Regions from separate parts of the Homo sapiens genome. Here all the other regions are linked to region 1. The links come from fine-mapping of genetic effects on gene expression. A gene starts in region 1. Each other region holds a variant in brackets. All regions are shown on one strand. Distances are between the middles of the regions.

Evidence for each region. PIP is the estimated chance that this variant, and not a neighbour inherited with it, causes the effect. A credible set is the group of variants that fine-mapping cannot tell apart.
Region 2: its variant is the best candidate, but not a certain one, in a credible set for the expression of FAM171A1 in whole blood (INTERVAL, PIP 0.79).
Region 3: its variant is the best candidate, but not a certain one, in a credible set for the expression of FAM171A1 in blood mononuclear cells (TOPMed, PIP 0.54).
Region 4: its variant is the best candidate, but not a certain one, in a credible set for the expression of FAM171A1 in blood mononuclear cells (TOPMed, PIP 0.85).
Region 5: its variant is the best candidate, but not a certain one, in a credible set for the expression of FAM171A1 in NK cells (Gilchrist 2021, PIP 0.53).

What each region holds. Positions count from the first base shown.
Region 1 is chr10:15,368,617-15,373,608 of GRCh38, forward strand. It overlaps FAM171A1 (family with sequence similarity 171 member A1), which reads right to left and starts at 2,673. Exons shown (of 8, transcript NM_001010924.2): 1 at 2,340-2,673. The coding sequence starts at 2,436. RefSeq lists silencers at 2,430-2,659, 2,670-2,719.
Region 2 is chr10:15,197,855-15,202,378 of GRCh38, forward strand. The region is part of intron 1 of LOC105376434 (a long non-coding RNA gene); the gene reads right to left. Among named protein-coding and RNA genes, the nearest start is that of FAM171A1-AS1, 8.5 kb to the right of the region's middle. RefSeq lists an enhancer at 2,516-3,715. The variant T/C (reference allele first, on the strand shown) is at 2,070.
Region 3 is chr10:15,158,880-15,163,871 of GRCh38, forward strand. The region is part of intron 1 of NMT2 (N-myristoyltransferase 2); the gene reads right to left. Among named protein-coding and RNA genes, the nearest start is that of NMT2, 7.3 kb to the right of the region's middle. The variant C/T (reference allele first, on the strand shown) is at 2,397.
Region 4 is chr10:15,251,524-15,256,515 of GRCh38, forward strand. It overlaps FAM171A1 (family with sequence similarity 171 member A1), which reads right to left. Exons shown (of 8, transcript NM_001010924.2): 4 at 3,198-3,356. Among named protein-coding and RNA genes, the nearest start is that of FAM171A1-AS1, 45 kb to the left of the region's middle. RefSeq lists an enhancer at 4,191-4,834. The variant T/C (reference allele first, on the strand shown) is at 2,067.
Region 5 is chr10:15,245,319-15,250,310 of GRCh38, forward strand. It overlaps FAM171A1 (family with sequence similarity 171 member A1), which reads right to left. Exons shown (of 8, transcript NM_001010924.2): 5 at 3,321-3,497. Among named protein-coding and RNA genes, the nearest start is that of FAM171A1-AS1, 39 kb to the left of the region's middle. RefSeq lists an enhancer at 2,912-3,413. The variant A/G (reference allele first, on the strand shown) is at 2,169.

The sequences.
Region 1 (4,992 bases):
TGGTGTAGGTATTAGCTATGGTTGATGCTTACCTACTCAGCACCATCTGAGCACCAACTGTATGCATAACAACCTACAACCCACTGTGGGAAATGCAAAGTGAAATCAGATGCAGCATTTGTCTTCATCGTGTACATGATCCAGGAAAGCAGAGAACACATGAATTTTAAAACTACGTCATACTACAGCAAGTGAACATTAAGATGCTTTGAAGAACTCAGTGAGTTGGGACTGACCTTCTAATGTCAAAGGAGAAATTGTCCATTCCCTTAAAAATGCTGCTAGCTCAAAATCCAAATGCCAGGTAGTGAGACCTGATTTCTGAAAGAGTTCCTGGGCTCAAGGCTTTAAAAAGCCATCCTTACAGTAGATAACAACAAAGGAAGTAATCCAAGGGGTAAACTATGCCAAGATACTTGATCTCCCACTCCAACCATACCCTAAACTAAGCCACTGCTAGCCATGGCAGAAACCTCTTCTCATGTTGACCATTTCCCTCCCATTTCGCATAATATTCCATTCCTGAGAGGCGGATTTTTAGCAGCAAGAGCTGGGTAAAACGTGGTCTTAGACCTAAACCTGTTATATATATATTGAATATATATATATATATATATTGAAGACATGCCTTCCTTTCTCTAATTCAGAAGTGCATGAATTTAATATTTCCATATATTGGTATTTCAAGTGCAAAAGGAAAAATTCAACTTGCTCTTTAAAATTAACGGCCTCGCTGAAGTGCAAATATCATTCTCTAAAATAGCTGATTCAAAAAAGCAGTAGGGTATTAATAAAAGAAGCTGCAATGCAACACTGATGATCTAATGTCCTAAACATTCGTTTCCTACACGAAGAGACATATAGGTCTTTTTGTATTTTGTAGCTGTCCGCTCTTCCATGATATGCATTACTAAAATTATACACAATTCATAACGGTCATATTCTACCATGGCCATAGAAGCAGCAATGCATTTAAGATATACCAGGAAATGATACTGCAAGTGCCAGAATATGAAAACCTTCAACTCAACATGTAGGCAACAAACTCAACCCAACAGAGTGTTGGCAGAGCCTTTCCTCCCCGTAGCAACATCGTGGTGGAAGCCCGGGCGTCTCTGCTCCCAGGCACCCTGAGCATGTTAGCCGAGGAAAGGGGGTTCCAGCAAGGAGACCCTCGGATGCAGCACTCCTCGTTTCTTTGGCCTGCAGGGCCAACTTTGCAGGACACACACCCTTCTGAGGGGACAGGCCTCGGGCTCGGAATCCCGGGGTTCTGCAGGGCTGCAGGGAGCTCCCTCGCAGAGACCTGAGCCCCCGGCAAGAGTCCAGGCAGCGGTGCCCTGGGTGAATGCAGAGGCTCATCTGCGGGCCTCAGTGGCCCTTTTGAAAACGCCAGCAACAGAGGAGTCCTCGACGCTGTCCCCACAAAAATGTGCCAAGCAAGCCTCAGGGTGGGTGTGGGGGACTCCCCTCAAAAAACGCTGATTTTAAAAACAAAAGACAGGCTCGTGGCCATTCTCAGAGGCGACCACGTTACTCCCAGGGCTGGAAAGCAGATTTGTGGAGGCCAAAGACGAGACAAAAGGCACGAGCTGGCGACAAACTGATCTGGAAAGGATTTTTCTTTTTTTTTTTTTTTTTTTTGGTGAGCGATGAGGGCCTCCCAGTTCAATTCTTTCTTCCCTTACAGAGAAGACTCATGGGCCGCTGAGCAAATCCCTTATGGTCTGGAAGAGACGTCAGATAGGCAGGGGGAGAGAACCCCCCAAACTTTCCCAAACTGCGGCAGGCTAGTGGCTAGTGGCGGCAGCGGACCTCGGGGCCCCGGGACACAGGGGGCACCCCGGGGCGTCAGCCACCCCCTCCCGCCACAACAAAAGGCCCCAGCGCAGCCCAGGAGCTGGGACTTCCCAGACCCGAGCCCGGCGTGGGGAGCCGGGAGCGCGATCGGGCGGCGCGCCCTGGGCGGCCCCTCTGTCCGCGGCGACATGGGAGACAGAGCCGCGTGTCCGAGGCGCGGCATAAAGGGGACCCCCGGGCGCATCCAGACGAGCCCCCGCCGCAGCGGCGACAGCAGCTGGAGCTGCCCGCGCCCCCGCCCGACCCAGCCCCCGATCCCCGGCCCCCGAAGCCTCCGCCCGGGTCACCCCGCGTCGCCGGCCCGCGCCGCCCCCTCGGGAGCGCGTTGCGGGTGCTGCAGGCCCGGAGGCTCCCGATGCGGCTCGGGCTGCGTCGCCACCACGCGGCCCGGGACCCTCCCGCCGCCGCCGCCGCCGCCGCCGCCTCCGCGCCAGGCCCGGCGCGACACAAAGCCCCCGGCCCCGCCGCCGCCCACTGACCTTGGGCTCCGGCGCCGGGCTCCCGCAGCGTCTTGGTCACCGCCTTCCAGACGTGGCAGCCCAGCAGGCACAGCAGCAGCGTCGCGGACCTGCTCATCTCCGCCGCGGGGCCGGCGGCGGCTCGGGCTCGCCGAGAGCGGGCCGGGCGGCGGCGCGTCACGGGCGGCCGGGCGCCGCGCCCCCCTCCATGTCGCTGGCTCCGCGCGCCGGGCCCGCCGCCCGATTGGCCCGGCCCCGCCGCCCCGGCCGCTCCCTCCCGCGCCCCGCGCCGGGTTTCCCCGAAGAGCCGCGGCGGCGGCGGCGGCGGCGGCTGCTGCTGCTCCGCCAGCTCCTTAACCCCTTCCTGCCTCGCCCGCCGCCGCCGCCGCTGCCCGCGCCCAGGCCCCGGGCCCGTGGTGCCACCTGGCGGCTGCGGCGCCGAGGGCGCCCCCGCCCGGCGCCGCTGCGTCGCGCCCCCAGCCCGACCCCCGGCGACACTGCCCCGGCGCGCCCCATCCCCGCAGCCCCGCAGAAGAGCCAGACCTGCCTTTCAGGGCGGAGCCCTTTTCATCACACCAGGTCACCCAAGGGGCCGCAGGAGACATTGTATCTGGGTGTGACCCCCCCACCAGGTGCCATCCTAATGTAGTTGTGTCCCCCAACGTAGATTTCACACCCAGTGTTAAAGATCCGCAAAAACACTCCCCAAGCCAGTATAGACTGCAGTAGGCCTGCAGTACCTACGTGTTGGCGGGTGGACAGCTTCAGGAGGAATGGTACTTGGATGGTTCTAGGGGTTAGGGTGGGGAGGAAATCCACATCTTTTGAGGCCCTAGGTGCTTTAAAACTTTCTGTCCTATTAAAGAAAAAAGACTATTCCATGACACGTGTGAAAGCACAGCAAAGAAGACCCTCTTTGGAACCATCGCAATAGGTATAAGCCCTACCATGGGATTCTGCAGTCGGGGAGAAAGGTTGGGTTCAACTCTGAATACAGCAGGAACAAGTGGGGATTTATAACCGAGGACCAGGGTGGGATGCAGGGAATGAAAAATTATAAGAGGAAACATCAGGGGGAAGGGGGATTCTTGAAAGTCAGACATCCCCTGGCAGGGCTGGGCAGGACAGGGCGGATGGGGAAGCTGATCAGATATCCAGGGTGGAGGGTTCTTGGTAAACTGACTTAGCAGGGTTCTTCCTGAAAGCAGATTTTACAAGGAAGGGCACAACTGAGCCTAGAAGAAGGTTCCGGAGCCTGACTGTAGTTCGGTCAAGCAGAGACTCTTTGTCCATCTTCACAATACATGATCTAAGAGGTAGTTAGCATTATCCCCCCCATTCACAGATGAGAAAAGAGGCTAAAGAGGGTTAAGGAATTTGTCCAAAAGTGCATACCTGGTCAGTGGCAGAGCCAAAATTCTAATAAAACAGTCAGTCTGACCCCAAAATTGAAACTCTTCACAAAAACCTCCAGACTTGGCTGGGTGTGATGGTTCATGCCTATAATCCCAACACTTTGGGAGGCTGAGGTAGGTGGATGGCCTGAGTTCAGGAGTTAAGAGACCAGCTGGGCCAACATGGTGAAACCCTGTCTCTACCAAAAATACAAAAAAATTAACCAGGCATAGTGGCCCATGCCTGTGGTCCCAACTACTCAGGAGGCTGAGGTGGGAGGATCGCTTGAACCTGGGAGTGGGGAGGTTGCAGTGAGCCAAGATCGTGCCACTGCACTCCAGCCTGGATGACAGACTGAGACCCCGTCTCAAAAAAAAAAAAAAAAAAAAATCAAAAAATAAAACCACCAAAAAAACCACACACAAAACAAAACCAAACCTCTAGACTTTCCTTGAGCCTAGGGACCCCCTCCATTCCAACCTCAACTTTTCTTTCTCTCAACCCACTCCTGTCGGTATGCCTTCCACACAACCTTCACCTCCACTTGTCCCTCTCCACCTTCTCTTCCAACTAGCACTGCGGTGACCTTCCGACTTCCACTGGGGACCTAGGAAAATCCACTCCAGACCCATCATCCACCCCACACTGCTTCCAGAACACCAGGCCAGAAGGAGGGTTATTACTGTAATTTCATTAATTGAGCATTTAGACATGGCAGGCACCGTACCAAAAAAAGAATGAAGGATGGCACTTGCCCAGTTGGCTTATAAAAGACAAATGACTGTGAGACATGAGAAAAACTAGGACGTACAGAAGCCCATATGGGTTTTATAGTCACCCTTAGGACCAATGCTGCAATTTGCGCAAATCACGCACCTGCACAGGGTGGCAGGTAGTCAGGAAGGCAGAAAGAAATAGGGACTGCTGGATTCCCTCCTTCTTCTGATTCCTGCATCTAAGCCTAATATATGGCATCAAAGTTCCTAATATATGGCACTCACTGAACTGGAGCTATTTCCTCATAACAACTTATTTGGTAGGTATCATTGTTTCCATTTCACAGATGAACAAACCGAGGCTTGGTGCCATTAAACAACTTGCCCACAATACAAAGATCTGATAAGTGTAAATTCCCTATACCATGTTACTTCTGAGAATAAATTTTATGCAAATGATTCAAATTACCTCCAGGAGTGTCCAAATTGTTTGAACCTGCTCTAATCCCAGTGAAGTGCAAATCTAGTGAATACTATGGTGCCAATGTTCATTTCCTGGCATT
Region 2 (4,524 bases), 170 kb before region 1:
TCTCTACTAAAAATACAAAAAATTAGCTGGGCATGGTGGCAGCTCACTGCAACCTCTGCCTCCCAAGGCTCAAGCCATCCTCTTACCTCAGTCCTCCATAGTTAGGACTATGGGCATGCACCAACACACCTGGATAATTTTTGTATTTTTGGTAGAGACAGGGTTTCGCCATAACGCCCAGGCTGGTTTCAAACTCCTGGGCTGGAGCCATACACCCACCTCAGCCTTCCAGAGTGCTGGGATTAGAGGCATGAGCCTCCGCACCTGGCTTTCATGTGTACCTTGAGTCAGGATCCTGCAGAATCCCTGCTGCAACTTGGAAGGCGCATTGTGAAGCCATGCTCCTGAGCTGCAGTTGTGGTGCAGAGGACTGAACATTTGAATTAATGTATTGAATTAGTTTGCTTTGGCATTCAATCTTTACTTTGCTGGGGTGGGAGGGGATGGCAATAATGGAGAACATGTGGTCAGAGGGAGAGTTGTGGTCAGCACTTCTCTCTCCCTCCTGTAGCTTTAGCCTCTTTGCTCGCAGAAGTTTCTGCCCCCTCCCCTAACCCTGGGCTTGGGAGTAAAGCAGGGATAGGGTCAGAGGGTGGGAGGGTGCCTGGAGTTATCAGCACTGCTTTGTCCAAAGAAATCCTCCAAAATGCTCTCACTGTCTCTCATGACCCTTTTTAAAGTGGACTAAGCATTGTGGGGCCGGTTTCCAGGCATTCTCTTTGTAAATTCCGCACACTGACACCCTGTTACACCGGTATCCAATTCTGGAGAAGGGCTCTCCCTTTCTGATCCATTCAAAGGATTCTTAAGACTAACCTTCTGAGACAGGATCTCACTCTGTCACCCAGGCTGGAGTGCAGTGGTGCGATCTCAGCTCACTGCAGCCTCCACCTCCCAGGCTGAAGCGATCCTCCCACCTTAGCCTCCTGAGTTGCTGGGACTGCAGCTGTGGGTCACCACACCCAAGTCATTTTTGCATTTTTTTTTTTGGAGATAGGGTTTCCCTGTATTGCCCAGGCTGGTCTTAAACTCATGAGCTCAAGTGATCTGCCCACCTTGGCCTCCCAAAGTGCTGGGATTACAGGCATGAGCTGCCATGCAAGTGTCCCCCACCTTTTTTTTGGTTTTGTTTCTGAGACAGAGTCTCAGTCTGTCACTTAGGCGGGAGCGCAGTGGCATGAACACAACTCACTGCAGGCTTGACCTCCTGGGCTCAAGTGATCCTCCTACCTCAGCCTCCTGAGTAACTGGGACTACAGGCATGTGTCACCATGCCCAGCTAATTTTTTTTTTTTTTTTTTTTTTTGGTAGAGGCGGAGTCTCCCCATATTGCTCAGGCTGGTCTCAAGATCCTGAGCTCAAGCAATCCACCCATCTTGGCCTCCCAAAGTTCTGGGATTACAGGCAAGAGTCACCGAGCCCGGCCAAGGCTAACTTATTCTTTTTTTTTTTTCTGAGACGAAGTCTTGCTCCATGGCACAGGCTGGAGTGCAGTGGCGGGATCTCGGCTCACTGCAACCTCCATCTCCCAGGTTCAAGTGATTCTCCTGCCTCAGCCTCCCAAGTAGCTGGGATTACAGGGGTGTGCCACCACACCTGGCTAATTTTTGTATTTTTAGTAGAGACAGGGTTTCACCATGTTGCCCAGGCTGGCCTCGAACTCCTGACCTCAGGTGATCCGTCCACCTTGGTCTCCCTAAATGCTGGGATTACAGGTGTGAGCCACTGTGCCCAGCCCAGACTAACTTATTCTTAAGACAGTGAAGGCTGAAGTTTGTAGTTCAGTCTGCACTGGACCTCCCTCAGGTCTCTGAACTCTTTGCCACATGTGGCTGAAACATTATTTAGCAAGAGGCATCCCCCACTCTGTGTTGTGTGGCCTCTTCAGCAAAGAGGTGCCTGACAGTCCCCTCTGAATAATGACATAGTTTTCTCTAACAACCAGAATTTGTCTTTCAAAGATGTTTATGCTAATCTCAGCTGTAAGATCTCAGACAGTCCTAAGAGAAAGGCATGTTGAATCCATCCATTACCTATCCCCACAATCTTCTAGGGTTCCAGGGCTTTCA[T/C]CCTGAGTGAAACCTACACTGCTTGTTCCCTTTTTTCATTATTTAGTGTGAGTGAAGCCAAAACTCAGTCATTCTCCGAGGTGGAGAAATTTCATACAGATTTTGATGTCTGATATTCTATCTGCTTGCACTGTTAAATTTCTCAAATATGTATATTTGTTTTCTCAGCAAAATCGTAAATTTATTGGGGAAATGAGGAATCATAGTTCATCTTTCCATGGGAAGGAGCCAGCTGCCCTGGGATCTCAGCAGCTTCACTGGTGAAGAGGGTGGGAACACTGTCCCCCTGAGCAGAGGCTGCGGCTACAAGGCTTGTTGGTGACAAGGACAAGGATAAGTCAAGACTTCCATAAACTTGAAGCAAGGAGGTGAACAGGAAGCTCCTGGTGAATTTCCTATTCACATCTTCAAAACTTTTATTGGCCAAGTGCAGTGGCTCACACCTTTAATCCTAGCACTTTGGGAGACTGAGGCAGGAAGATCTTTTGAGGCCAGAAGTTCTACAGCAGCCTGGGCAACCATGTGAAGCTCCATCTCTACGAAAAATAAAAATAAAATAAAAATTAGCCGACTGGTATGGCATGCATCTGTGGTCTCAGATACTTGGGGGGTTGATGCAGGAGGATTACCTGAGCCCAGGAGTTTGAGGGTGCAGTGAGCTGTGATCACTCCCCTGCCCTCCAGCCTGGGTGACAGAGCCAGACCCTGTCTCAGAAAAGAAAAACCAAACTTTTTTATTGGGGCTTGATATTACTTGGAATAAAGAAGCCACAACAATATCATCACTCTGTTATTATCTAGACTATCAGCATACTAGCGATATGAATCATAACAAAACTATAATACGATTTTATCTATAGAGTCACACATTGAAACAATTGGGAGTAACCTTATCAAAGGAAACAGATAACTGATAATGATCACACTTGTGAATAATTTCACAAAGAATGTGGTGACTTCATTCACCAAGGATTTCTGGAATCCTGAATTCCAGGTCAGTGGTAAAGCCTCAGAGGACAGAGGGAGGAAAAGGATTGAGTCATACCAAGGCATTTTTTAATTATTCCAAAGGTCATTCTCAAGTTAAAAAAATCACAACATCATTGTTATTATGATGGTATTCCTGAAAATCAAGAGATTCTAATTCACACAAGATATTCCATCATTTGACAGCTGTCACCAAGGGTAAAATTTTTTTTTAAATTATTCAGTTGAAATAATTAAAGTTTGGTTGAAAAAGTCAAGATGTTATATGGGGGTCAGTTCAGCCCTATATTTTCTAAGTACGTCAATCTGAAGTTTCAGGCACAAAGAATAGACATCCAAAGAAATTCAACTTGCAGCCAGGTGTGGTGGCTCACACCTGTCATTCCAGCAATTTGGGAGGCTGAGGTGGGAGGTTGCTTGAGGCCAGGATTTTGAGACCAGCCTGGGCAACATATCCATTGATGCTGTCTTATCCCGGTGATGATCTGAGGGGAGCTAGCTGCAGTATTATAGAAAAATGACATCTTTAAAAAATGACTATCTTTCATATGAGATCCTCAAAAATGCTCTATGGCCAAGAATTGTCTCTGTTCTCTATTGCTACTTGTCTGAAGATGTGCCTCTTCAGCTTTTACCCTTTAATCCAGAAAAGGCAAACCTCATCCCTGAGAAAGACCTTATATTCCTTTTCACTTACTCAAGAAAAAGAAGAAAATTTTTCTGTCCTCTGTCCAGGAAAAATGTAACTGATCTTCAATGCAATTTGAGCTTTTCTCTGTTTCCAAGTAGATATTTTTTATTTGCCATCATTATGCCCCATTTATGGGTCTCATCATCTCAAATGTGAAATTTCCCACTGCTGGGCATCTGATCTCATTTTAACCTTCTCTCTTACCTTCTCTGGCCTTTGAAGAGTGACTAATGTACTAGGACTCCAAAATAACCAACCTCGGAGAGTAGCTATCAAGTTATTTTTCTGAGGCTCGCAGGATCATTTAACATTACTATTACTGTGTTTCTGGAAGACATTTATAATTATGTTATACTGTTTATAAAATGGTTAGCATTCTGGGAAACAAAGCTTTTAGCTTTCCATAATGAAAGCAGCTCTATTGAATAAGCATTGCAAAGTGGCAGAGAGCACCGTTCATAAATGAAGTTACTCTGCTTCTTTATTTGTCTGTGAAATGACAGAAGAAATAACCTCACCAGTTGACTGTAAGGACCACAGGACACGTTTAGAGCCCTTCTGGAAATGTGGGAGGTACTAAGTGTTAGCCGTGGTTCCCAGCCCTGGAATTCATCTCTCTAAGGCAGCTGTGTGGGGTAGAGAGAATACTGCACTTCTGAACACAGCATGTGAGTTTCAGTGCAAATCCTGGGTCTTCGCCACTGTTTTGGTAAGAATTTATTTCAGTGTCTTTGAATGCAAGTGTGGATTAACATCACCTGCCTTAGCTATACAGCA
Region 3 (4,992 bases), 210 kb before region 1:
TGATCCGATTCATGGGGACTCCACCCTTGTAAGCTATTTACCCCCCAAAGGTGCCACCTCCAGACACCATCACGTTGGGGATTTAGGCTTCAACATATGAATTGGCAGGGAGATACAATTCAGTCCCAGCAAGGTGCCAGCATTGTTCACTATGTCCTTCCCTGAAAACTCCCTTTGCCCACAGGTCTCACCAAAGGTGTGGCCCTCAGTGGCCATGTTGTACCACACAATTCTCTTCTACCCCTCCCTTTCCCTTCTCCATCACAGTGGACTGGATCATGCCTGGATAATCCCTTTCTTGGCCAGAAACCAGTGAGATCCTTTCTGGAGAATCTGAACTAAGGAACAGATGCTTGGGGCAGTCTAGTTGACAGAGACTGAGACAGAAAGGGAGAGAGGTTAGAAAGACAGATGGACCTTGGGTACTTGACTTTCTATAATGTTTAATTCTAATAAAGTCCAGCCATACTTTATTTTCAGATAACCTATTGTATATTTAAATAAAACCTCCTTAAAATATTTATTTATTTATTTATTTATTTATTTATTGAGACAGAGTCTCACTGTCGCCCAGGCTCACTGGAGTACAGTGGCACAATCTCGGCTCACTGCAGTATGTGCTTATAAAGTGATCTCCATCTCTCGGGTTCAAGCAATTCTGCCTCAGCCTCCCGATTAGCTGGGATTACAGGTGCCCGCCATCGTGCCAGACTGATTTTTGTATTTTCAGTAGAGATGGGGTTTCACCATGTAGCCCAGGCTGCTCTCGAACTACTGACCTCAGGTGATCCACCCGCCTCGGCCTCCCAAAGTGCTGGGATTACAGGCGTGAGCCACTGCGCCCAGCAAAATAAAACCTTTTACTCTAGCTGGTTGGTAGATGCTACACACACATTAAGCAACAGACGCAAAGACCCACATCTCCCATTTGTGATTGTGGACAAGGAACTCACCTCTAGGAGCCACAGCTTGGGGCAGGAGAATGAGGGTCTTCCCGAGCAGAGGGCTGGGGAGATGAGGTGAGAGCAACTGGGAAAGATGTCACGGGAAAGATACACTCACTAAGAGCTACAGGGCTTCCGGCAGGGGTCAGCGCCTTTGGTCATAGTGGCTGCGGAAGGCTTCATGAAAGAAAGGACATTTGGGCTGACCTTGAACTTAGAGAAGAGGAGAAGAAAGATCAGGAGACACTCTCAGAAGCAGAGGAAGCCATGACCCACAGAAAGGCGTGAGCAGTAACAAATTCCTCTTGGTGAACAATGATGTCTGACACTGAATTCAAAGTTGTTTTCTGCGCTACTCTGTAATCAGACCTCCCTCCCTCCCCATTAGCCACAAACGCTTCAGCAAATGCTGTGCACAATAGCTGGATTTTAGTGATTCCTGGGAGGAGGGTGGTGAGAGACACAGAACTGAAGATAACCGTGTTCCACCCAAGGTCAAATGTTGAAGAAAAAGAGCACCCTAAGGACACACAGGCACAAGGAGCCCGGTGATGGGGCAAGTTGGCTGCAGTGTGGGTGTGCCTGAGGACCATGAAAACTTAAGACCCCAAGAAACCCCCATGAACATGTATCAGCTCAGGCCATTTTGTTTAGATAGTAAAGGAAAGGTGCCAGGTGCAGTGGCTCACACCTGTAATCCCAGCACTTTGGGAGGCTGAGGTGGGGAGATTCCTTGAGGTCAGGAGTTCGAGACCAGCCGGCCAACGTGGTGAAACCCCGTCTCTACTAAAAATACAAAAATTAGCTAGGCATGGTAGTGTGCGTCTATAATCCTGCCTACTTGGGAGGCTGAGGCAGGAGAATCGCTTGAACCTGGGAGGTGGACGTTGCAGTGAGCAAAGATGACGACACTGCACTCCAGCCTGGGCAACAGAGTAAGACTCCATTGCAAAAAATAAAAAATAAAGGACAGGCGATCCCAGCATGTGAAAGGACATGGAAACCCTTTGGTAATAGAACAACAGGGAAAAAATGCCAGAAGCTTCTAGACTGAAAACAAGTTAAAACAGACAAAAAGAATAAGATTACCTATAAAAGACAGAGAAGCAGAGAAAACAGCATCTGGCCAGGCACAGTGGCTCACACCTGTAGTCCCAGCACTTTGGGGAACCGAGTCAGGTGGATCACCTGAGGTCAAGGTCAGGAGTTCGAGACCAGCCTGGCCTGGGTGACAGAGCGAGACTCTGCCTCAAAAATCAAAAAAAAAAAAAAAAAAAAAAAAAAAAACACAAAGAAAACAACATCTGTACCAGTAAATACTGGAAGATATTAAAACGTTTATGGAGTTTCAAGGAAAACGATTGTTATCATAGAGTCACATGCACACCCAGGCTATGTATTATGTGGGAGGGGAAAAGAATGGCATTTTCAGACATGCAAGAACTCAAAATA[C/T]ATCATCCACGCACTCTAAGAAAAAAAATCATGTGAGAATGCTGTTAAAGAAGAAAAAGACAGGATGTGTTTTATTTTTTACTTTTATTTTTTTGAGACAGAGTCTTGCTCTGTCGCCCAGGCTGGAGTGCAATGGTGCAATCTCGACTCACTGCAACCTCCACCTCCTGGGTTCAAGTGATTCTCCTGCCTGCCTCAGCCTCCCGAGTAGCTGAGATTACATACGCCCGCCACCACACCTGGCTAATGTTTTTTTGTATTTTTAGTAGAGATGGGGTTTCACCATGTTGTCCAGGCTGGTCTCGAACTCCTGACCTCAGGTGATCCGCCCACCCCGGCCTCCCAAAGTGCTGGGATTACAGGTGCGAGCCACCACGCCTGGCCGGGAGGATGTGTTTTATAAAGAACGATGGAAACCCATAAAAACAATAAAGCTGTCAGGAAAGTCTAAAATGTTTTTGTTAACAGGAATGTGAAACATGTAATAGTTAAGAAAAAAGTCTCTAGTGACACAAGGGCAAAAATAAAAGAATTACAATTCCAGGTTATTTCAATTAAACCTAGGAAATGAAAAGAAGTCAAAATATCCTACATGATTTTTCTTGTGAGATGGTAGAATATTTTAAATAGTGGTTAATTTTTTGATATGGATAAAGAAATATAGATGAAAACATACTTGTTCAAAATGTACAGATCGCCGGGCACGGTGGCTCACGCCTGTAGTCCCAACACTTTGGGAGACGGAGGTGGGTGAACTGCTTGAGTTCAGGAGTTCGAGACCAGCCTAGACAACATAGTGAGACCCTGTCTCTACAAAAATACAAAAATTAGCCAGGTGTGGTGGCATGTGCCTGTAGTCCTAGCTACTTGAGAGGCTGAGGTGGGAGGATCACTTGAGTCCAGGAGGTCAAGGCTGTAGTGAGCTGAGATTGTGCCACTGCACTCCAGCCCAGATGACAGAGTGAGACCTTGTCTCAAAAAAAAAAAAAAAAAAAAAGTGTACAGATAATCCACAGAAGAAAAAAAGAATGAAAACTAGACATATTCTACCAAAGACAGGAAATAAAATACAGAAATTTTTGAGTACCAAGAAAGCTTATAAACAAAATTCAAAGACTGAATATGATCTGAGCTGTCCAGTATGATAGCCACTAGTCACATGGAGCTATTTAAATTTAAATTAATTCAAATAAAATAAAAACATTCAGCTCAGTCACACTTGTCACATGCAAGTGCTCCATGTGTTGATGACTGCCCAACTGGATTACTATCACCCCAGAAAGTTCCAGCACACAACAATAAGAGTCAGCGAAACATACATGGTAACAAATGCACCCAGGTACAGTAAGATCCCAGCGATGTTAAACACACACACATATTAAAAAGTGAGTTCATTAAACTATCAGTGGTGACAGCTCTGGGAAATAAGGTGACCAGGGGCTTTCACTCTACCTTATATACCTTATTGTTTGATATATATATATATTTTATTTATATATATATTTGATTTATATATCTCTATGTATTTGATATTATATATCTGTATTTGATATTTATATATCTCTATATATTTGATATTTATATATCTATATATTTGATATCTTTTGATATTTATATATGTGATATATATAAATATATACATATAAGAGAGAGATATATATATATGTATATTTTTAGACAGAGTCTCATTCTGTTGCCCAGGCTGGAGTACAGTAGTGCGATCACAGCTCTCTGGGCTGAAGCAATTCTCCCATCTCAGCCTCCCAAGTAGCTGGAACTATACGCATGCACCACCATGTCTAGCTCATTTTTTATTTCATCGAGATAGGGTCTTGCTATGTTCCCCAGGTTGATCTTGAATTCTTGGCCTCAAGCGATCCTCCACCTTGGCTTCCCAAAGCACTGGGATGACAGGCATGAGCCACCACACCTGGCCCTATTGTTTGATTTTTGAATAAGCGTATTTTTAAAACGTCATTAACATGTTTTCAAAGAAAACAACAATCAATTTCTTGAACTTGGAGTAGAACTTGGTTCTGTTAAAATAAAGTGATTTTAACTAGTATAGATGTATAACGTACATTTGCACTAACAAACAAAGATGGCAAAGTATGTGTCCTATATTTAGACAACCCTGGAAAAAATTTGTTCTGGGCCAAAGGGTGACATCACCCATTCAGATGCAAGTCTTAGCAGACACTTGATCATTTCAAACAGTAGTTCTTGATTTGAGGAGGTCCCTCAGGCAAAGACTGTCGTTAATCTATTTTTCCATTTAGATTTATACAGTTGATAACAGATCAAATTTCAGAAAGGGCAGCTTTGAGTTATCCCTAAATTTTCCATAAGAAAAACTTATTGCAAGTCATAATGTTTCTGCATTTTCCCACTGATACCACACAGCTGACAAAGGGGAAGTTCCCAACTCAATTTCAACAACAGACATATGAAGTCAGATACAACAACATAGTGCCCAAAGAAGAACTTCCTTTTTTTACCCCCTAAATTGGGGATGGTAGAAGACAGATTATGTTCTTTGTTAAAAGAATTCCAAAGTTTTCATCTTTGTCCAATACCAGATCTTCAATCTTTCTAA
Region 4 (4,992 bases), 120 kb before region 1:
TCCTGAGTAGCTGGGACAACAGGCACACACCACCACTCCTTGCTAATTTTTTTTTCTTTGTTTTTGTATTTTTAGTAGAGATGAGGTTGGTCAGGCTGGTCTTGAACTCCTGACCTCCCTCCCAGTGATCCACCCGCCTCGGCCTCCCAAAGTGCTGGGATTACAGGTGTGAGCCATCGCGCCTGGCCTATTCTGCAACAATTCACATTTTGAAGGGCTAAACTATTTTCCTTCTCTTTGTTATGAAACTCCAATTTTACACAAAATACTGAGTTTTATATAGAAAGTGGTCATCCTTCCCGTTCCATCTGGATGTTGCCTGGCTCCCTTTAAGTCTGCACAAAGACAAGCAGGTGTCAGGCAAATGCAGCAGGATCGTGTTGCGGGGCAGAACACCACTGGCCCAAGCGAGGAGAGGAGCTGTATCACCTTGGGCCATCTACCTGGTCACTCGTCACGTGACAGGTTCTGCTCAGCTGACATCTAAGGTTCTGTTGGGCTCTGTATTCTACCAACTTTTTGGAATTGCAGGAAAAGTCTGCACCTGTCATTTTATTGACTCTTCTCTGTCTTCCTGGAGTTATTAGTGAAAGCAATTTTTGTAAAAACCCCTTGGGAACACCACGGAACATTCTGTGCTTTCTCAGCAGCTGGGGGAAGAGTGCGATGCTCTCCGGTGAGAGGAGGGGGCCCCCAAGAGCTAGAAAGAGAAGATGCTTCTCCACTTACTTACAACTCTGGATCCACCCTCTAAACCAAACAACACAACCTTCATGGTACCCCCAGAAAACAGCCTTTCGGAGCCCTTTCCAGTCTCTTCCGCAGCCTCTCTGTTTCCATCCACCTTCACTGAACTCTGGTTATGACGCTAGTCATTTTCTGCGTCTTCGGGAGATGAACTTGTGTCATCTTCCAAAGACACGTCTGGTCCAGGCGTGCTCTCTTTAGGCTGTGAGCTCTTAGATGCCTTTAGTAAAACAGGAGATGAGTGACTGTGGGCAAAAGACAAGCTGTGTGCAAACTGACCCCAGGGGCCGCCATGGAGCTGGTGAGTTACTGAGGTGTCTGTGCTCAAGGGAGCCCAGGTTCCAAGTCCCCGAGGGCGCGTGTGAATTCACTATGGGTGGATGCCTTCGCTGCTAGGTCTCCAAGAAAGCCTAGTCATTTCTAGGTCAAGTCATCCATTCTTTCCGTGGAAGAGAAATTTCATGTCACATTGCAAAGACCTCTCTTCCCTTTGAAATCACGGAATGATCTTAAAATAGGACAAACTCCTCTAAAATCAATAGTTCTGTGTCTTAGTGTTCGTTTTCCCCCATTTTCTCAGACTGCATAATTTATTCAAGAGCTACTGGAAGTGGGGCACAGAAAAATTTAATGAGTCCCGAGCACGGAGGCTGTCCCTCCAAGTTAGGGTTTTGTGGATCGTGCACCATTTTGTCCGGGAGGCTGGATGCTGGCTATGATATTTTAAAACTTTGTTTTTTTGTTTTTTTTTGAGACAGAGTTTAGATCTGTTGCTCAGGCTGGAGTGCAGTGGCACGATCTTGGCTCACTGCAACCTCCACCTTCTGGGTTCAAGCGATTCTCCTGCCTCAGCTTCCTGAGTAGCTAGAACTACAGGCACCTGCCACCACACCCAGCTAATTTTTGTATTTTTAGTAGACGCAGCATTTCATCATGTTGGCCAGGCTGGTCTCAAACTTCTGACCTCAAATGATCCACCCACCTCGGCCTCCCAAAGTGCTGGGATTACAGGCATGAGCCACCGCACCCAGCCTTAAACCACTTCTTCATGCTCCCCAAAACAAGACTTTTCTCCCAGACCGGCACATTTCAAGTAATAGTCAACATTTTTTTTTCCTAATAATGTTTACTTAAGATGACTGCTATGCCATCTTTCTGATGACCAAGTACTGACATATTTACTGACAAGTTAATCACATCCTCATCAGCACACAAAAATTAAAGAAGAAACGTTTTGGAAAACAGAGAGAAGAAAAATGAGTAACAAATCACCATGTTGCCTTTATGTATAACCAGAAACTTATTAATATGCTACAAAA[T/C]GGATCAAATGTTTCAGGTTTAAAAGCTTTTTCAGAATAATCAGTTTATGTAAAGCACTGGAAAATTAAGTGAAATTCAAGCCAAGTATCCCTGGGAAATGCAGTGAGTTACTCTCCTAGCAGAATGCAACTCAGAACAGCCTTTGATTTAAAATTTTAATGCTGTGATTAGTTTAAAGTGTGGGGGAAAGGAAAGTGGGGTAGACAAGAAAATAATTCAGGACTCCAGAATCCTGACACCTCTTCCACCAGGAGGAGTGGGGACCATTCCAGTGCAAAGGGGTCCAGAGAATGGTGCAGTTGGACACAAACAGAGGTGGAAGGTACCCGTCTTGGGTCTTTCTCTGATAAGGAATTATCACTTATTTTCTGGTGGATGGCTTTTAGTTTCTCTGATCTTTTAGCTGTGGCATGCCAGAATAGTGGTACTGACCCAGCTGACTTAGAGACCTGCCAGGAGAGGGCGGATTCTAAAGCAAATTCAAAGCCTGGCCACTCTATGCCCAGTTGAGGACAGAGAGAGCAAGTGCAGAGAAAGAAACGATGTGGGAAAGAGCTGGGTGGACACAGATGGCAGAGGGCGGAGGCTCCCCATCCTAAGTGGTCCCCATGCCGGTGGGGCATGGAGCCAAGGTATGCCTGTCTCTGAGTTGGACCAAGCACCACCTCTTCCCCTCCTGGCTGCAGCATAGGTGGGTGGGGTGGTAAGTCTCTACCAGCCCCACCCACCCACAGGCTACCCTCTCAAATGGGGGCTCGTGGGACGAGGCAGAGGGCAGCTGGGCCAAAAACCCTAAGTCTAATCTTATACTTAAAAAAATTGCAATTTCAATAAGAATTTCTCTGAATTGAATATATTTAGTCCACCAAAGGAGAGCTCAGAGAAGGTGCTTAAGGCAACTGGTAACAGAAGAAAAGCTCAAGGAGACCAATGTGCTAACATGTAATTCTGCAGGGCTCGTACCGACGTAACACAGTTTCAAAGCACTTGAACTTGTACCAAGAATTCCCCTTCTGCACCTTCAGTGCCTTTCTCCCACATAGTGCTAAAACTCCCAATCATACCTAAAATCCACATGTAAAGACTAAAACACAGTAACTCCCACTGAAAAGAGAAAAGACTCCAATTACCTGTTCCATTTCCGTCTAATCCTCGCAAATAAGGAAAACTGTCCACCTCCGAAGGGGAGCTGGCGGCCGTGAGAAACGCGGTCAGGTCACTGTAGCTGGTGTTCTCAGGCAACCTCAGAGCCCTTCTCTGGAAATGAACGCGAGGCTGTGGCCGGGCACCTGCAGAGATTAACCTCCGAGTTATCTCCCCCAGGAGCAGTTTCTGTTTTTAGAAAATGCAAAACCAGGAAGTGCCTCTCTAAGGTTTCAGCACGCCTCCCCCACCCTGCTCCCTCTCACAAGGCCTCCCTTCCCCCATTCATGCAGGACACAGAGATGTGACAACATGCTATTATGGGGAGAGAAATAATAGCCCATTGTCACATTTGTTTTGACACAGGATGTTATTTAGGTTTTTAACAAAAAGCTTTTTCCAAGTTCCATGTGCAAGCAGTCTTGTCACTGCCCAGCATTTGCCTGTGGATCTGGGTAGCATTTTGGGAAACTCCATGTAAATGAAACAAGTAGATGACTATTAATCTCTTTACTCAAACAATGTAAGAGATACTCTTTGATACCGCTGCAAACCCGTCTTTAATCTCCCTGGAAAAATCTGGTTTAATGCCATGAACCAAATTGAAGGAGGGCAAGGGAATTAACAGTGCAACCTTGAAAAGAATTGCAAACAATACCCCAGCGGCAATGAATCTTCTCTTTCTGTGGGAGCTGCCATTTGTCATCATCCAGTCTATTCTGGAGGCGTGCTTCCTACTTGTGATGGATTATGTCACAGAATTTAGGATGAGACTTTTGAAATGATGCAAAATGATGCTTCTTCACCAAACTCAACTCCTTTGTGTAGGAGGACAGGTTGGGCTGACAGGCCCTAGACAGTTGGTTGTGCCGTCCTCTGCAGCTTAACTTTGCTCCAAATTTTCTTTTTCTTTTCTTCTTCTTTTTTTTTTTTGAGATGGAGTTTTGCTCTTGTCGCCCAGGCTGGAGTGCAGCGGTGTGATCTCAACTCCCTGCAACCTCTGCCTCCCGTTCAAGCGATTCCCCTGCCTCAGTCTCCCAAGTAGCTGGGATTACAGGTGCCCGCCACCACACCCAGCTAATTTTTGTATTTTTAGTAGAGGCAGGGTTTCACCATGTTGGCCAGGCTGGTCTTGAACTCCTGACCTCAGGTGATCCACCCGCCTCAGCCTCCCAAAGTGTTGGGATTACAGGTGTGAGCCACCGCGCCTGGCCCAGATGTTGTTTTGATCATAAAACCTGAACTGGTTTTTACCTAATGCTGCGGTGATATTCACCAGACGTAAAGGTGCTAGGTAATTTTGTGCAAACCTGGCAAAAGCATTGTTAAGAGAAAAACTGTAGATCCAACCCCAGGCTTGAGGCAGACCACATTCCACCTGTGCTTTGCTGAGGGTTCCTTCTCCCGGCCCCCTGCTGTCCTGCTTCAACAGCTCTGCACGGAGCTGGTGGGCTTTATCTCCACTCCAGGGTTCCTTTTAACTCTGGATCAAAGAACTTGTAAGGAGTGAAGAAGCCTGTCTAGACGTGTTCTAGAAAAAGGGAGTTTTAGAGCTCCAAGAATCCACTAGCCCAAGTCTCTCTTCTTAAAGGTGAAGTCACTGAGGTCCAAAGGACTTATGTCGGGGGCAGCCTGTCTTGGCTACACACTGCCTAACTGGCAGGGAGTCACAATGCTCCCTCTTCCTTTTAAAAACTAGCAGGTAGACTTCTCCAGGGGCTGGTTCTCCACTCTGTGAAATCCAGGCCCAGGTTTAGAGCCCAGCGAGCAGGTGCCCAAAAT
Region 5 (4,992 bases), 120 kb before region 1:
GGCCTCCCAAAGTGCTGGTATTACAGGCATGAGCCATGGTGCCCGGCCCAATCTGTTGACTTTGAGTGAAGCAGATCACTCTCCACAGTGAGGGAGGGCCTCATCTCATCAGCCTGCCTTGCAATTTTGGACTTGCCAGCCTTCCCAATTGTGTGAGCCATTCCTTAAAATCAATCTCTCCAAATATACATATATCTCCTATTGGCTCTGTTTCTTTAGAGAATCCTAATACACTCATTATAACAACAGTGGGTACTATTATTATTGCCATTTCACAGTGGAAGAAACTAGATCAGAAAGGCTAAGTAACTTGGCCAGGGCCACACAGCCAGTGGGTGGCAGAGCTGGCATTCCACACCACTGTGCCCCCCAGACTCCCTGCTCTTAACCACACTCTCCGCTGCTTCTCAGTGCATTGACCTGGGTGCGCTTCAGCGCCCCCTGGGAGGGCTACAGGGGACAGGCAGACCATACAAGGGGGTGTATATTCATATCTCTTACAAATGCAAATAGAGGTAAGTAATTTGCCCAAGGTGGGACTCACAGTTTTATAAGTAGCAGAACCCAGGTTTTCAGGAAACAAAACACAAACTCAAAGCTCTTTCCATTCTCTTGCCCACTTCCTCTGTGTTTTTCTTTATCCATTTTCTTCCTCCCTTTAGAATTCCGGCATTCTTCAGAGACTCTTGGTCACACATCCCTCAGGCTACTCCCTCCTGGAGGCACAGTGTACCTCAGGTCCCCACCATGACCTTGATGCCCCCCAAATTATCAGGCTCACAGAGAACACACACCATCAATAAAGTGCCCGTCTCGCTTACTGCAGGATATGTGAACAGATTATCAGGCTCTCAGAGAACACACACCATCAATGAAGTGCCCGTCTTGCTTACTGCAGGATATGTGAACAGACAGCATCACAATCCACTTAACAATATCAAGTTTACTGTGGCTGGTAAAATCAATGCATTCCACACAAATAATTACAGTGTCTCTATTAATTATTTGGAAAGTAAAAATAAGACAAAACAAAAATCCCCTCCAAAAGCCCAACAGGCGTTTCTTTTAAAATATAATTCCTAGAACTCTGTTTTAACTGATTCGAGGAATTAGATATCTTTGAAAATATACTGATATCAAAAATCTCCCAATTATCTTCATGCATGGTCTAACAGTTTTAAATTCTGAACTGGCTTATTTGAAAACTGGTATTTTCTTTTTTCGAGACAGTCTTGCTCTGTCATCCAGGCTGGAGTGCAGTGATGCGATCTTGGCTCACTGCAACCTCTGCCTCCCAGGTTCAAGGGATCCTCCCAACTTAGCCTCCCAAGTAGCTGGGACTATGGACATGTACCACCACAGCTGGCTAATTTTTTGTATTTTTAGTAGAGATAGGGTTTCACCATGTTGGCCAGGTTGGTCTCAAACTCCTGACCACAAGTGATCTGCCCGCCTTGCCTCCCAAAGTGCTGGGATTATAGGTGTGAGCCACCGTGCCCAGCAGCAAATTGATATTTTCAAGCTTGACTTTCAGGGCACTAGGAAGCAAAGGGGGGTAAGAGGCCCCACGCTGCCAAGACCCTCAGCCCGAGCACATGCTCGTGGGCTGGTATCATGAGTGCAAACCAATACAACTGTCTGGAGGGAAATCTGGAAATATGTTTTAAAAGTTTTAGAATTTTGTACATTTTGTAACTCAGCAATTCTTCTAAAATGTCATCCTAAGGAAATAACCAAGGCTGTGCATAAAGATTTAGCTAGAAAGATATTTTCTACAGCATTGGTTAGAATAGTAACATTTTTTTCTAATTGCAGGGGATTGATGAACCAAAGTGAAGTATGATATATCCACAGGGTGGAATACTATGGACTTATTAAAATTGACATGGCAGAATAATGATGCTATGGAAAGATGTTCATGCTGTACAAATGTATTTTTATGTATATATTATTGGTTGATTGAGTGAGTGAGTGGTCTCGTTCTGTTGCCTAGGAGGTGCAGTGGCTCGATCATAGCGACATCACTCACTGTGACTTTGAATTCCTGGGCTCAAGCAATCCTCCCGCCTCAGCCTCCCAAAGTGTTGGGATTTCAGGTGTGAGCCACTGCACCCAAACAGTACCCAGCACATGATCTCATTTCTGCTAAATATGCTTTGTAGAAGGCA[A/G]CCTCTCAGATAGCCAGCCCCAAGTGACCCCTGCCTCCTGGTATTCACTCCCCTGTATAGTCTACTCTCAGTGCTGGTCTATACCAGTGTGGGTCTGTGTGACCAACAGCCTAATGGAAAGAAATGATGGTATGCTGCTTTTGGGATTAGGTTACAAAAGACCATGACCTCAATCTGGGCACTTGGGCTTTTAAAAGGCTGGTCTCAGACTCTTGGCCTCAAGTGAACCACCCGCCTCAGCCTCCCAAAGTGCTGGGATTACAGGTGTCAGCCACCACACCCAGCCTACTATATCATTTTTATTTACTCTTGGATCATTTGCTCAGGGGAAAGCAAACTACCGTGTAGTAAGCAGCTCTATGGAGGGTCCCACGTGGTAAGGAGGTAAGGCCTCTGGTCAACAGCCGGCAAGGAAGTGAGGTCTGCCTTCAGCCCTGTGAGTCACACTCATTAGCCCCAGCTGAACACTGCTGGAGAGGACCACAGCCTTGACTCACAGCTTGACAGCCGCCTTGTAAGAGACTCTGAGCCCTACCACCCAGCTCGGCTGTACCTGGATTCCTGACCCCCAGAAACTCTGAGATACTGGAGCTCACTGTTGTTTTAAGCAGCTAACTTTTAGGGTGGTGTTACACAGCAGTTGATAACTAATACCTACGTGCACTGTGAAAGCCCTAGAAGGACAGAATTCAAGATATATTAGTGGTTTTCTCTAGGTGGTGAGACTTATGGGTAATTTTTATTTTCTTTGTTTTGTACAGTTTTGGCAAATGTTTGTCCTTTTTCAGAAAACAGAAAAAAAAAATACCACACATGACCAAGAGCAACCATATGACCTTCTGATGAATAAAAGGATGAAGATTAGGAGAGCCAGTTTTAGCTCTAATAACCTTTACAGATTCTTTTCAAGTAAATTAGGTTAAATGTGCAAAACAAAAACAAATATGAAAACTAACAAAAAATGAGTTCCCAAGAGAGGGTCTGAATGGCACGGGGAAGGGTGCCGTCCCCATGAGAAACCACACAATGCAATGTGAGCAGCAGCATTCACTGACTTCAAGGAAAGGAGACTTCCATGAGCTTCTTAGAAGGAAAACCAAACAGTAACGAAGCCATCTGGTAGCCGATTGTCGGCACAGAACTCTTGCTTACCCAGCTTCTGGTCAAACCGCCACGCCGCGACATAGGCATTGTGCCTCAGGCTGCTCTGCGTGGCCAGGGGCACAGTGACATAGATGGGACCATCCACCAGCACCGGCGTTCCATTACTGCTCAGCAAGTGGACGCTGACGGCTGTGACTGGGGTCAGGTCATGCCTGGTGCTGTTTCCTAGAAGGAAGAGGCATTTTCCATCATTTGCATGCAAAGTACCCATGTGGGGCTGTGGAAACCTTTGCAAAAAAATAGTCGCAGCTACCATTACCTCCTATATGCCAGGGACTGCATGAAGCACTTTACATACATAATCCTCACCACAACCCAGTAAGGCAGGTAAAATCGTCATTTTTACACACAAAGAAACAGGCTCAGAGAGAGTAGTAATGGTAGGTGGCCTAAGGGCATACACTCAGTATGGGCTGAGCTGGAATCTAGGCTCAGGTTTTCTTTTTTCTTTTTTTTTTTTTTTTGAGATGAAGTCTCATTCCGTTGCCCAGGCTGGAGTGCGATGGCACAATCTCAGCTCACTGTAACCTCCACCTCCTGGGTTCAAGCGATCCTCCTGCCTCAGCCTCCCAAGTAGCCGGTATTACAGGCTTCCACTACCCTGATGGATAATTTTTGTATTTTTAGTGAAGATGGGGTTTTGCCATATTGGCCAGGCTGGTCTCAAACTCCTGACCTCAGGTGATCTGCCTGCCTTGGCAATCCCAGGCCTGTGCTGGGATTATAGACTTAAGCCACTGTGCCCGGTCAGGCTTGCTATTTTTCATTATTGTGTTTTGCTTTCAAAAACGATCTCAAAAGAGAAGGATTTTTCTATAATGTGAGACAAAGGTGTAAGTGGAAATCACCGGAAATAACTTTTACACAAAGTGAGCCCCATGCACATGTTAATTACTTGGCAGATAACCTTAATAAAACCAAATGTTTTAGAGCAGAGGCTGCTTTTTTTTTAACATAGCAAATTTCTTCAAGGATTGCTTCAAAAATATTAACTTCTGCTAAAAAGTATGCTATTGAGGACTGGACTTGAAATATTTATGAGTTATTTTAATTGCCATTGTTATTTTGATCTGTTTAAAAGGACCTCAGTATACCAATTATTTTCCATTAAAGGCCTTTGGTCCAAGCCAAAGCTTTAATGACTGCCTACAGATAAATTAGAGAATGCTTATGAGACCGATATATTTATGCACTCAAGCAATCCATTTTACATTTTCCTCTAGTGAAATACAATATCGCACAAACTGTGTTGTCATAATTTTACATATTTCTTTGAGCACAATGACAAAAACACAGCGATAAAAAATTTAAGCTGCATTAAAATACAATCTATAGGACTTTTTATTCAGCTACTTATATACTTACCTACCTACCAAACTGAGCTGATGTAAACCTCCAATCTGGTCTACATTTAAACATTTAAAGAAAACCTAGTGAATTTTAGAGTCTCAACAATGAATTACAGCTAAATCCTTCATACAGCAATTTCTACACAGCTAATGCCACCCTACCTTTTATCATTCATACCCGTCTGTTTTTTAATGAAGGCAAAGGTGTGGGAATGGAGATTTCGTGGAAAGATCGAAGTTGGAATCACAGATCCAAGTTTTGAAATCTCTTAGTCTGGTTATGTCATTTTATGGTAAAAAAACAACCAACC